Regions from separate parts of the Homo sapiens genome. Here region 2 is linked to region 1. The links come from fine-mapping of genetic effects on gene expression. A gene starts in region 1. The other region holds a variant in brackets. All regions are shown on one strand. Distances are from middle to middle. Region 1 holds the start of OR52N4 (olfactory receptor family 52 subfamily N member 4). Region 2 has its middle 19 kb from the start of OR56B1.

The links. PIP is the estimated chance that this variant, and not a neighbour inherited with it, causes the effect.
Region 2: its variant is fine-mapped to the expression of OR52N4 in stomach (GTEx, PIP 0.94).

What each region holds. Positions count from the first base shown.
Region 1 is chr11:5,750,890-5,756,283 of GRCh38, forward strand. It overlaps OR52N4 (olfactory receptor family 52 subfamily N member 4), which reads left to right and starts at 3,354. Exons shown (of 2, transcript NM_001005175.5): 1 at 3,354-3,416; 2 at 3,804-5,069. The coding sequence starts at 3,852. The coding sequence ends at 4,817.
Region 2 is chr11:5,715,069-5,720,462 of GRCh38, forward strand. It overlaps the pseudogene OR52U1P. Among named protein-coding and RNA genes, the nearest start is that of OR56B1, 19 kb to the right of the region's middle. The variant T/C (reference allele first, on the strand shown) is at 2,391.

The sequences.
Region 1 (5,394 bases):
AATTTAAAAATGAGTTTATAAGCTGCTATGTAATGTAAGTGTAACTTTGGGAGGTCCTCATATTAACATTGTCCCTCCATATCAACAAAGTGAGAATGTGAATTTAAGTGCTTTTCGTTATTTGTGTTATAGAAAAACCTTATCAAACTTGGAAAAAAAACAATTTGGTACAATTACCTTTAATTACACAATGCTAAGCGTTTTGTCTTCTCAAAGTGATCTTGACTTGAGTGTTTTAGCTTTGAATTCTTTTTTCTAGTATTAGTATATCCTAAGTATGAGGTATACTGTTTATCTAAAAATATTATGTTTGTATATATTTTTAAACCTTTGTGTATAATTTTCATTCTGATGAAATCTTATACTGCATATATAATTTTTAAAAATTAGTTGGAATTATTTCAACTTGATGGGAAGTTTAAATTATTTTTATATCCAAAACCAATGTTTGTTCTGCCTTTGTCATCTTTTTTTTTCCACTTTGTATTCTCTGTTTCTCTACTTTATGAGAGAGATGCCTTATGTTGTTTAGCTTTTCTAGTAATCTTAAGTAAAACTTTCTCTTTTTTTTCCTTCTAGTGGTTTCTTTTATACATTCCAAGTAATATTAGGTTGGTGCAAAAGGAATTGTGGCTTTGCCATTACTTTTAATGGTAAAAACCGCAATTATGTTTGCACCAATCTAATAATACTTAGATTATAATTTAATAATTATCAAAATAAAGTGTTTCGGGTGAGTCATTCACTTTTTCATTTACTTATTTGTTTATTTATTTTAAAATTGACATTTATTGAGTATCTAATATGAGAGATTTGATTTGCTCGGCTCTGAGGATGCTTTACCAGACACTGTCCTTACATCGGTGATTTCACTGAATTTTGGAGAATTCCTAAATATAAGTTGATTTTCATAATATCATGAGGGAAATATTATTAAAGAGAATAATTGTTTGAACAAATCAATTTCTTACCCCTAGTCAAGGCTATTGGTAGCTACATTATCTTAAAATAATTTAAAGGATGGGTCGCTATCATGTCCAAAGGACATTTGAGACCTCCTGATGATGGTTCTGCTTGAAGAATGTATAGGGATTAGCTACATTTGAGGGGAGTGGGCAAAGGGAGCACCAAGGAGATAGAGGTTTGCCTATCACAAAGCTGAGAATGTCAGTGCGATATGAGTAGGAAACAGCAAACAGCAACAGAAGAAAATGCTGTTCCTACCACTTTGACCTGTCAGAATTCTAATCATGCTCCAGGTCTGGAAGCATCTGTCCTCTTCTCTAGGAGCATCTCCTGAGGCTAGGTTAGACACACAGGTGCTCCTATGACACCCAGTATAACTCTGACATTTTGTAATGACTTGAGTACATATCTTTGAGGAGCATGCCTATTAACAAGTTTAACCTGTGTTTTTCTACTATTTTCAAAACAAGTTGCCTTTTGATAAATCTGATCTGTCCTCTTCATCTTACCCAATAAGGCAGAACATGTGACTGTACTTCCTATCAGATGCTAATCTTAAAACAGTGTATTTTATTAATGGAGGTTAGGATGAATACCTCCTCTGATGGGGCACAAAAGAGAGTTCATTTGGTGGCACTCATGATTCCTATGGTGTTAATTTTTGTAAGCATTGCCAAAATGGCTGCCAGCCTGAGTAGAAAATACAAATATGGGTATTGAGCACTTAAAATGTGGTAGCATGTTTTAACATATTACGTCCTTTAATCCTCTTGGCAATTTAATTTTTGTTATTATAAATTCTAACATACATATGCAATTTTACAATTAATCCAATTACATGTTGATTGATTTTTACAACCTGAATCTTGTATATCTCACAACCAAATCAAGTAAGGGAATATGACCAGCAACTAACAGGACCCTTCTACCACATACTGCCTTTCAGTTATCACTCTCTCTCACTTTTTAAAAAGATTTTTCTATTTCTAATAGCACAGAATAATTTGATCCGTTTTTGTATTTCATTTAAAGATCACAAGATGTTACATCTATTTTAAGTCTTTCTAAAAAAAATTAACACATATTGTGAGATTCGTCTATATTATGCATATAGTCATAGATTGTTTATTCTTATTGTTACGTGGTATTTCATTGTGGGAATGTACCAAAATTTATTTACCCATTTGATGTTGATGAACATTTAGGTTTTTTCCAGTTTTAGGCTATACTACAAATCATGTTTCAATAAGCATTCTAATTGATGTATTCTAGTAAATATATATACATAGTTTTGTTGGAAATGGCAATGGTGGTCATGTGTATGTTTATCATTATGAGATATCTAATAAAGAGTTGTTCTAATTTACATGTCTACCAGCAGTAAATGAGAGTTCCAGTTGTTCTACATCTTTGCCAATGCTTGGTATTTTTAGTTCTTTTCATTTTAGCTGTCCTGTTTGGTATGTCACTACATACCAAAAAAAGGTGCTTTGTCATGAGAGATACAATTTTTACTTATTTTTCTGATTAATATAAAAGTTTGTGCCTATTTACCTGTTCATTGGCAATTTTATTTCTCTTTTGAAGTGTATGTTTCTTCCTGCAACTTTTTCTTACTGATGTTGTTGAAGTACTTTATATATTTTCTGTATGTATGCATTTGGATATCTTCTAGTTTGCGTTGACTAGATACATAAAGAACAAGAAAGATATCTTGAAAAGTGAAAAAATTGAATCAAAACTTCATTGACTTTTTTAATTTTAAATTTTTGTGGGCACATAGTAGGTGTATATATTTATGGGTGTATGAGATATTTTGATAGAAGCATACAATGTGTAATAATCCCTTTTAAAGGGCCGGGCACAGTGGCTCATGCCTGTAATCCCAGCACTTTGGGAGCCTGATGTGGGTGGATTACCTGAGGTCAGGAGTTGGAGACCAACCTGACCAATATAGTGAAACCCCATCTCTGCTAAAAATACAAAAATTAGCTGGGCGTGGTGGCATGTGCCTGTAGTCGCAGCTACTCGGGAGGCTAAGACAGGAGAATTGCTTGAATCCGGGAGGTGGAGGTTGCAGCCAAGATTGCGCCACTGCACTCCAGCCTGGGCAACAAAGCAAGACTCTGCCTCAAAAAAAAAAAAAAAAAAAAAAAAAAATCCCAGTAAAGTAAATAGGGGTATCCATCATCTCAAACATTTATCCTTTGTGTTACAGACAACCCAATTATATTATTTTAGTTATTTTAAAATATACAATTAAATTATTATTGAGTATAGACACCCAATAAATTTACTAATTTTTGAGACCCCAAGCTTCATTGAGTAATAATTTAATTAAAATTTCAAAATTCTTTGAACAGTGCCTGAGTACCCAAGAATAAATATCAGTCAGTCATTAAGAATAAAAATTAAAAAGTCAACATCTCATCTCTCAGATCATCAGTGAGGTAATCAAATGACTCTTCTTTAAAATTATATCTATATTGAGATGAGTATAGTTATAGTTAAGTAAGATATTCTAATAAAAATACCATTTGAAAAGTCAGAATTATACTTGATTATAAATCTATGAGATTGGGAATATGTCTTTTTATAAAATAATTGATGTTTGATTGGCATCTGTGTTGAAAACTTAGACTGCTCAATAAGAATTTTTTACTGAATCAATTAATTAATCAATCAATAAAACTAAACAGACAAACAAAATTATTTCTTGGCACTCAGAAATTTGGTTGTTGGACCATTAAAATGCATTATGGAATTTTTAAAAGTTGGGGGAGAGGGAGACAGTAAAAATAACCTATATTTTCTCTTGTTTTTTTTTTTAACTCTAGGAAAGCCCAGACAAATTTTGAGCTATTTCATAACCTACCAGACTTATCATGCTAACACTGAATAAAACAGACCTAATACCAGCTTCATTTATTCTGAATGGAGTCCCAGGACTGGAAGACACACAACTCTGGATTTCCTTCCCATTCTGCTCTATGTATGTTGTGGCTATGGTAGGGAATTGTGGACTCCTCTACCTCATTCACTATGAGGATGCCCTGCACAAACCCATGTACTACTTCTTGGCCATGCTTTCCTTTACTGACCTTGTTATGTGCTCTAGTACAATCCCTAAAGCCCTCTGCATCTTCTGGTTTCATCTCAAGGACATTGGATTTGATGAATGCCTTGTCCAGATGTTCTTCACCCACACCTTCACAGGGATGGAGTCTGGGGTGCTTATGCTTATGGCCCTGGATCGCTATGTGGCCATCTGCTACCCCTTACGCTATTCAACTATCCTCACCAATCCTGTAATTGCAAAGGTTGGGACTGCCACCTTCCTGAGAGGGGTATTACTCATTATTCCCTTTACTTTCCTCACCAAGCTCCTGCCCTACTGCAGAGGCAATATACTTCCCCATACCTACTGTGACCACATGTCTGTAGCCAAATTGTCCTGTGGTAATGTCAAGGTCAATGCCATCTATGGTCTGATGGTTGCCCTCCTGATTTGGGGCTTTGACATACTGTGTATCACCAACTCCTATACCATGATTCTCCGGGCAGTGGTCAGCCTCTCCTCAGCAGATGCTCGGCAGAAGGCCTTTAATACCTGCACTGCCCACATTTGTGCCATTGTTTTCTCCTATACTCCAGCTTTCTTCTCCTTCTTTTCCCACCGCTTTGGGGAACACATAATCCCCCCTTCTTGCCACATCATTGTAGCCAATATTTATCTGCTCCTACCACCCACTATGAACCCTATTGTCTATGGGGTGAAAACCAAACAGATACGAGACTGTGTCATAAGGATCCTTTCAGGTTCTAAGGATACCAAATCCTACAGCATGTGAATGAACACTTGCCAGGAGTGAGAAGAGAAGGAAAGAATTACTTCTATTTGCCTCTTATGCAGGAGTTCATAAAATCTTTCTGGAAGCACTGTATTGATCACAAAATGGAGTTTGTTAACTGGTGCATTCTCAATAAGTACCTTGGGAATCTCAACATCATTGGAAGGCCCACCAACATTTCTATAAATTTTTTACCTTCTCACTCATGTGAAGGACCAGTCTAATAATTAAACCATATTTTATTCGACAAAACCTAATGAGTCCATTTTTTATGAAAAGACAAATCTAAGTAGAAGGAGATGATGTGAGTCTTCTTTTCAATGATCACAATTTTCAGATTAATATTTCAGATTAATAGCCAGTTATTACTTTTGTCTAGAAAACATGTGCTATATATTTCTCATAACTACCAAAAACCTGTTTCTTCAATGACATTTTCCTGAAGGAGAATCTAGAGTGCATGCCATAAAGTCTAAAATGAGTTTTAAGTCTCTAAGCATCTAGCTAAAATATTATTAGGCTGAATAGGTCACATAATTATTTCACAACAGAATAATTGGATATTTCGTTTTCTTTA
Region 2 (5,394 bases), 36 kb before region 1:
TGAACATTGATGTAAATATCCTCAATAAAATACTGGCAAACCGAATCCAGCAGCACATCAAAAAGCTTATACACCATGACTGAGTGGGCTTCATCCCTGGGATGCAAGGCTGGTTCAATATATGCAAATCAGTAAATGTAATCCAGCATATAAACAGAACCAAAGACAAAAACCACATGATTATCTCAATAGATGCAGAAAAGGCCTTTGACAAAATTCAACAACCTTCATGCTAAAAACTCTCAATAAATTAGGTATTGATGGGTCGTATCTCAAAATAATAAGAGCTATGTATGACAAACCCACAGCCAATATCATACTGAATGGGTAAAAACTGGAAGCATTCCCTTTGAAAACTGGCACAAGACAGGGATGCCCTCTCTCACCACTCCTATTCAACATATTGTTGGAAGTTCTGGTCAGGGCAATTAGGCAGGAAAAGGAAATAAAGGGTATTCAATTAGGAAAAGAGGAAGTCAAATTGTCCCTGTTTGCAGATGACATGATTGTATATCTAGAAAACCCCACTGTCTCAGCCCAAAATCTCCTTAAGCTGATAAGCAACTTCAGTAAAGTCTCAGGATACAAAATCAATGTACAAAAATCACAAGCATTCTTATACACCAACGACAGACAAACAGAGAGCCAAATCATGAGTGAACTCCCATTCACAATTGCTTCAAAGAGAATAAAATACTTAGGAATCCAACTTACAAGGGACATGAAGGACCTCTTCAAGGAGAACTACAAAACACTGCCCAATGAAATAAAAGAGGACACAAACAAATGGAAGAACATTCCATGCTCATGGGTAGGAAGAATCAATATTGTGACAATGGCCATACTGCCCAAAGTAATTTATAGATTCAATGCCATCCCCATCAAGCTACCAATGACTTTCTTCACAGAATTGGAAAAAACTACTTTAAAGTTCATATGGAACCAAAAAAGAGCCCACATCGCCAAGTCTCAATCCTAAGCCAAAAGAACAAAGCTGGAAGCATCACGCTACCTGATTTCAAACTATACTACAAGGCTACAGTAACCAAAACAGCATGGTACTGGTACCAAAACAGAGATATAGACCAATGGAACAGAACAGAGCCCTCAGAAATAACGCCACATATCTGCAACTATCTGATCTTTGACAAACCTGAGAAAAACAAGCAATGGGGAAAGGATTCCCTATTTAATAAATGGTGCTGGGAAAACTGGCTAGACAGATGTAGAAAGCTGAAACTGGATCCCTTCCTTACACCTTATACAAAAATCAATTCAAGATGGATTAAAGACTTAAACGTTAGACCTAAAACCATAAAAACCCTAGAAGAAAACCTAGGCAGTACCATTCAGGACATAGGCATGGGCAAGGACTTCATGTCTAAAACACCAAAAGCAATGGCAACAAAAGCCAAAATTGACAAATGGGATCTAATTAAACTAAAGAGCTTCTGCACAGCAAAAGAAACTACCATCAGAGTGAACAGGCAACCTACAAAATGGGAGAAAATTTTTGCAACCTACTCATCTGACAAAGGGCTAATATCCAGAATCTACAATGAACTCAAACAAATTTACAAGAAAAAAACAAACAACCCCATTAAAAAGTGGGCGAAGGACATGAACAGGCACTTCTCAAAAGAAGACATTTATGCAGCCAAAAAACACATGAAAAAATTGCTCACCATCACTGGCCATCAGAGAAATGCAAATCAAAACCACAATGAGATACCATCTCACACCAGTGAGAATGGCAATCATTAAAAAGTCAGGAAACAACAGGTGCTGGAGAGGATGTGGAGAAACAGGAACACTTTTACACTGTTGGTAAACAGTACTGAAACAGTAGTTTACAGTACTGTTTACAGTAGTAAACAGTACTGAAACAGTAGTTTACGGTACTGAACTGTAAACTAGTTCAACCATTGTGGAAGTCAGTGTGGCGATTCCTCAGGGATCTAGAACTAGAAATACCATTTGACCCAGCCATCCCATTACTGGGTATATACCCAAATGACTATAAATCATGCTGCTATAAAGACACATGCACACATATGTTTATTGCGGCACTATTCACAACAGCAAAGACTTGGAACCAAGCCAAATGTCCAACAATGATAGACTGGATTAAGCAAATGTGGCACATCTACACCATGGAATACTATGCAGCCATAAAAAATGATGAGTTCATGTCCTTTGTAGGGACATGGATGAAATTGGAAATCATCATTCTCAGTAAACTATCGCAAGGACAAAAAACCAAACACCGCATATTCTCACTCATAGGTGGGAATTGAACAACGAAAACACATGGACACAGGAAGGGGAACATCACACTCTGGGGACTGTTGTGGGGTGGGGGGAGGGGGGAGGGATAGCATTAGGTGATA[T/C]ACCTAATGCTAAATGACGAGTTAGTGGGTGCAGCACACCAGCATGGCACATGTATACATATGTAACTAACCTGCACATTGTGCACATGTACCCTAAAATTTAAAGTATAATAATAATAAAAAAAAATAAAAATTGGATTGTTTTCTTTTTACAGAAAAAAAAAAGAATGCCAAAACTGCTAGTCCCCAATCTAGTTATCAGATTCAACTTTGTTTTAAAAATAAATTTTATTGTGTATATTTAAGGTATACAACACGATGTTATAACATATCTATATCTGTAGTATATATATGTTCCACTGTAGTGGAACAAATTAACATATTCATCATCTCACATAGTTATCCATTTTTCCTCATGTAGCGAAAGCAGCTACAATCTACTCATTCAACAAAAATCCTGATACAATATACTGTTATTAACTATAGTGCCCATGTTGTACATTAGGTGTTTTGACTTGTTCATTCTGCATGTTTGCTATTTTGTATCTTTTGACTAATATCTCTATTTCCTCTCTGTGACCCCGACCCTGGTAATCGTTTTATTCTCTATATGTTTGACCCCCCGTTTTTCCAAATTTCACATGTAAGTGAGGTCATGTGGTATTTGTCTCTCTGTGATGGGCTTATTTAATTCAGTATCATCTCCTCCGGGTCCATTTATGTTACGTCAAATGGCAGGATATCCTCCTTTTTTAAGCCTGAACAATATTCGCATTCTACATATACTCCACAGTTTGCTTATTTATCCATCCATCCATTGATTCAGTTTTATCTTCACCCTCTCTCTCTTCAAACTCCTCCAAGATTGGCAAAGTCTGGAACATTTCCTGAATTCCTAAGACTAATTATCCTCATCTCTTGGGAGCTCAGGCAACCTCCAGGGTCAGTTTTACACATAATAATAGTTGTGCCTTGTCTTTTGGGAGGTGGAAGGTTGGGGTTGGCAGAAGTAAGCAAAGAGCTAATGCTGGGCACCCTGAGGGCCTTTACTTAGGTTACTTAAAAGACCACACCGTGGATTCTGGGTGCCCAGAAGTGAAGTATGGAGAGATGCAAGGCCACGGGTGTGCTCTCCAAGAGTCATATGGGTGTTTAAGATATACCTACATACCTATGTACACACTCACACATACACATTCTCAGAATGTGTCTGGGACCAGCTGCCTATCCTCTCACTGCCTCTCTTTCAGGTAAGTGTTCTTGATGAGGGTGGGCTTTATGTTCATATTCTGGTGAGCCTCAGCTGTCCAGCACCCCATTGCCCACTTCATTCTTCATCATCATTGCACCATTCTCATCAATAAGGTTCCCACTCCCTCATATCCTGTATCTGCTGAAAATGTGTATTCTTTAATTTTTGGATGCATAATTCTACTATAAGCTTTTAAGTCATCTTAATTAAAAAAAAATCTGTTGTGTTGAATACATTTCATCTTTTGGTTTCCGAAAGGAGTATATTGCATTTTGTCAGCTCCTCTTTGTATGCCATGCATTTTTGCTGTACATACTTCAAGTTCTGTTCTTTAAGTTGATACATGTTTATTTCTTAATATATTAAAATTTATTTAATATTTTATTAATAATGAATCATTTTGTCCTTAATAAAAACATTTAGCATAAAATATATCCTCTTGGATATGAATGAAGTTATACTTCATTATTGCTACTGTACTATTACAACTATACCCTATGATACATAGCGTCATGATTTCAGAATCATTTGTGTGTATAACATTTCGATCTTTGTTTTCCATGTTGAAGCTCTTTTTTTAAATTGAAGCTCATGTAGCCTCTTTGTTGTTCTCCACAAGTACTTCGGCAGGGTGCCACCATGACTGCTTGCAATGCCTCACAGGGCCACCCTTCTTTCTTCATTCTCCAAGGAATTCCTGGCATGGAGGACAAACACAGATGGATATCTATCCCCTTCTCCTCCATGTATTTCGTTATGGTGCTTGGGAACTGCACCATCCTCCTCACCATCTCCACAGAGCGCTCCCTGCACAAACCCATGTTCCTGCTCCTCTGTCTGTTGGCCCTCACAGACCTGGGCATGTCTACAACCACCATTCCCAAGGTGCTGTGCATTTTCTGGTTTGGCCAGAGTGAGATCAGCTATGAAGGATGCCTGGTTCAGCTGTTCTTCATCCACTCCATCTCTGCCATGCAGTCAGCTGTCCTGATGACCATGGCCTTTGACCACTATGTGGCCATCTGCAAGCCCTTGCGCTATGCCACCATCCTTTCCAATAGTTGCACTGGACTCATTGGCTTAGTGAGTTTGGTGAGAGCTATCCTCTTTATTCTCCCCATGCCCATCCTCCTTCAGCAAATGCCCTATCATGCCAATCGTGTCATCCCCACCACCTCCTGTGAGCACATGGCTGTGGTGAAGATGGTTTGTGTAGATACTACAGTCAACAGGATATATGGCCTGGTGGTGGCCTTGTTGGTTGCTGGCTGGATCTCTCAGCTATTGCTTCATCTTATGTGCTAATCATCCAGGCTATAATGCATCTCTCTTCTAAGGAAGCCCACCACAAAGCAGTCAACACCTGCACCACACACATCTGTGTCATGCTTATTTCTTATACTCCCTCACTTTTCTCTTTTCTCGCTCACCGCTTTGGCCAAGGCATTCCACCCCATGTCCACATCATTCTTGGCAACCTTTACTTCCTTGTACCTCCAATGCTCAGTCCTATAATTTATGGAGTGAAAACTAAGGAGTTCTGGGACAAAGTGACCAAATAGGGTTGCTGGAAAGAAGAACCCACAACCACTGACCATGGTCAGAAACTTGTCTGGTAATCCAGCAGCTGTGAGTATGAGGAAGGAATGTTAAGTAGATGCAATTCCTGGGGGAATCAGCTAGTGGTAGAAATATGTTATGTTGGCAGATTTAGCTGCCAAGATGTTTATCCTTGGTCAGAGAAGCTAAGGGACAGGAGACCTTCTTGATCTCAGTAATTCCAAAGCAAGGAAATTATCCCCACTGTGAAAT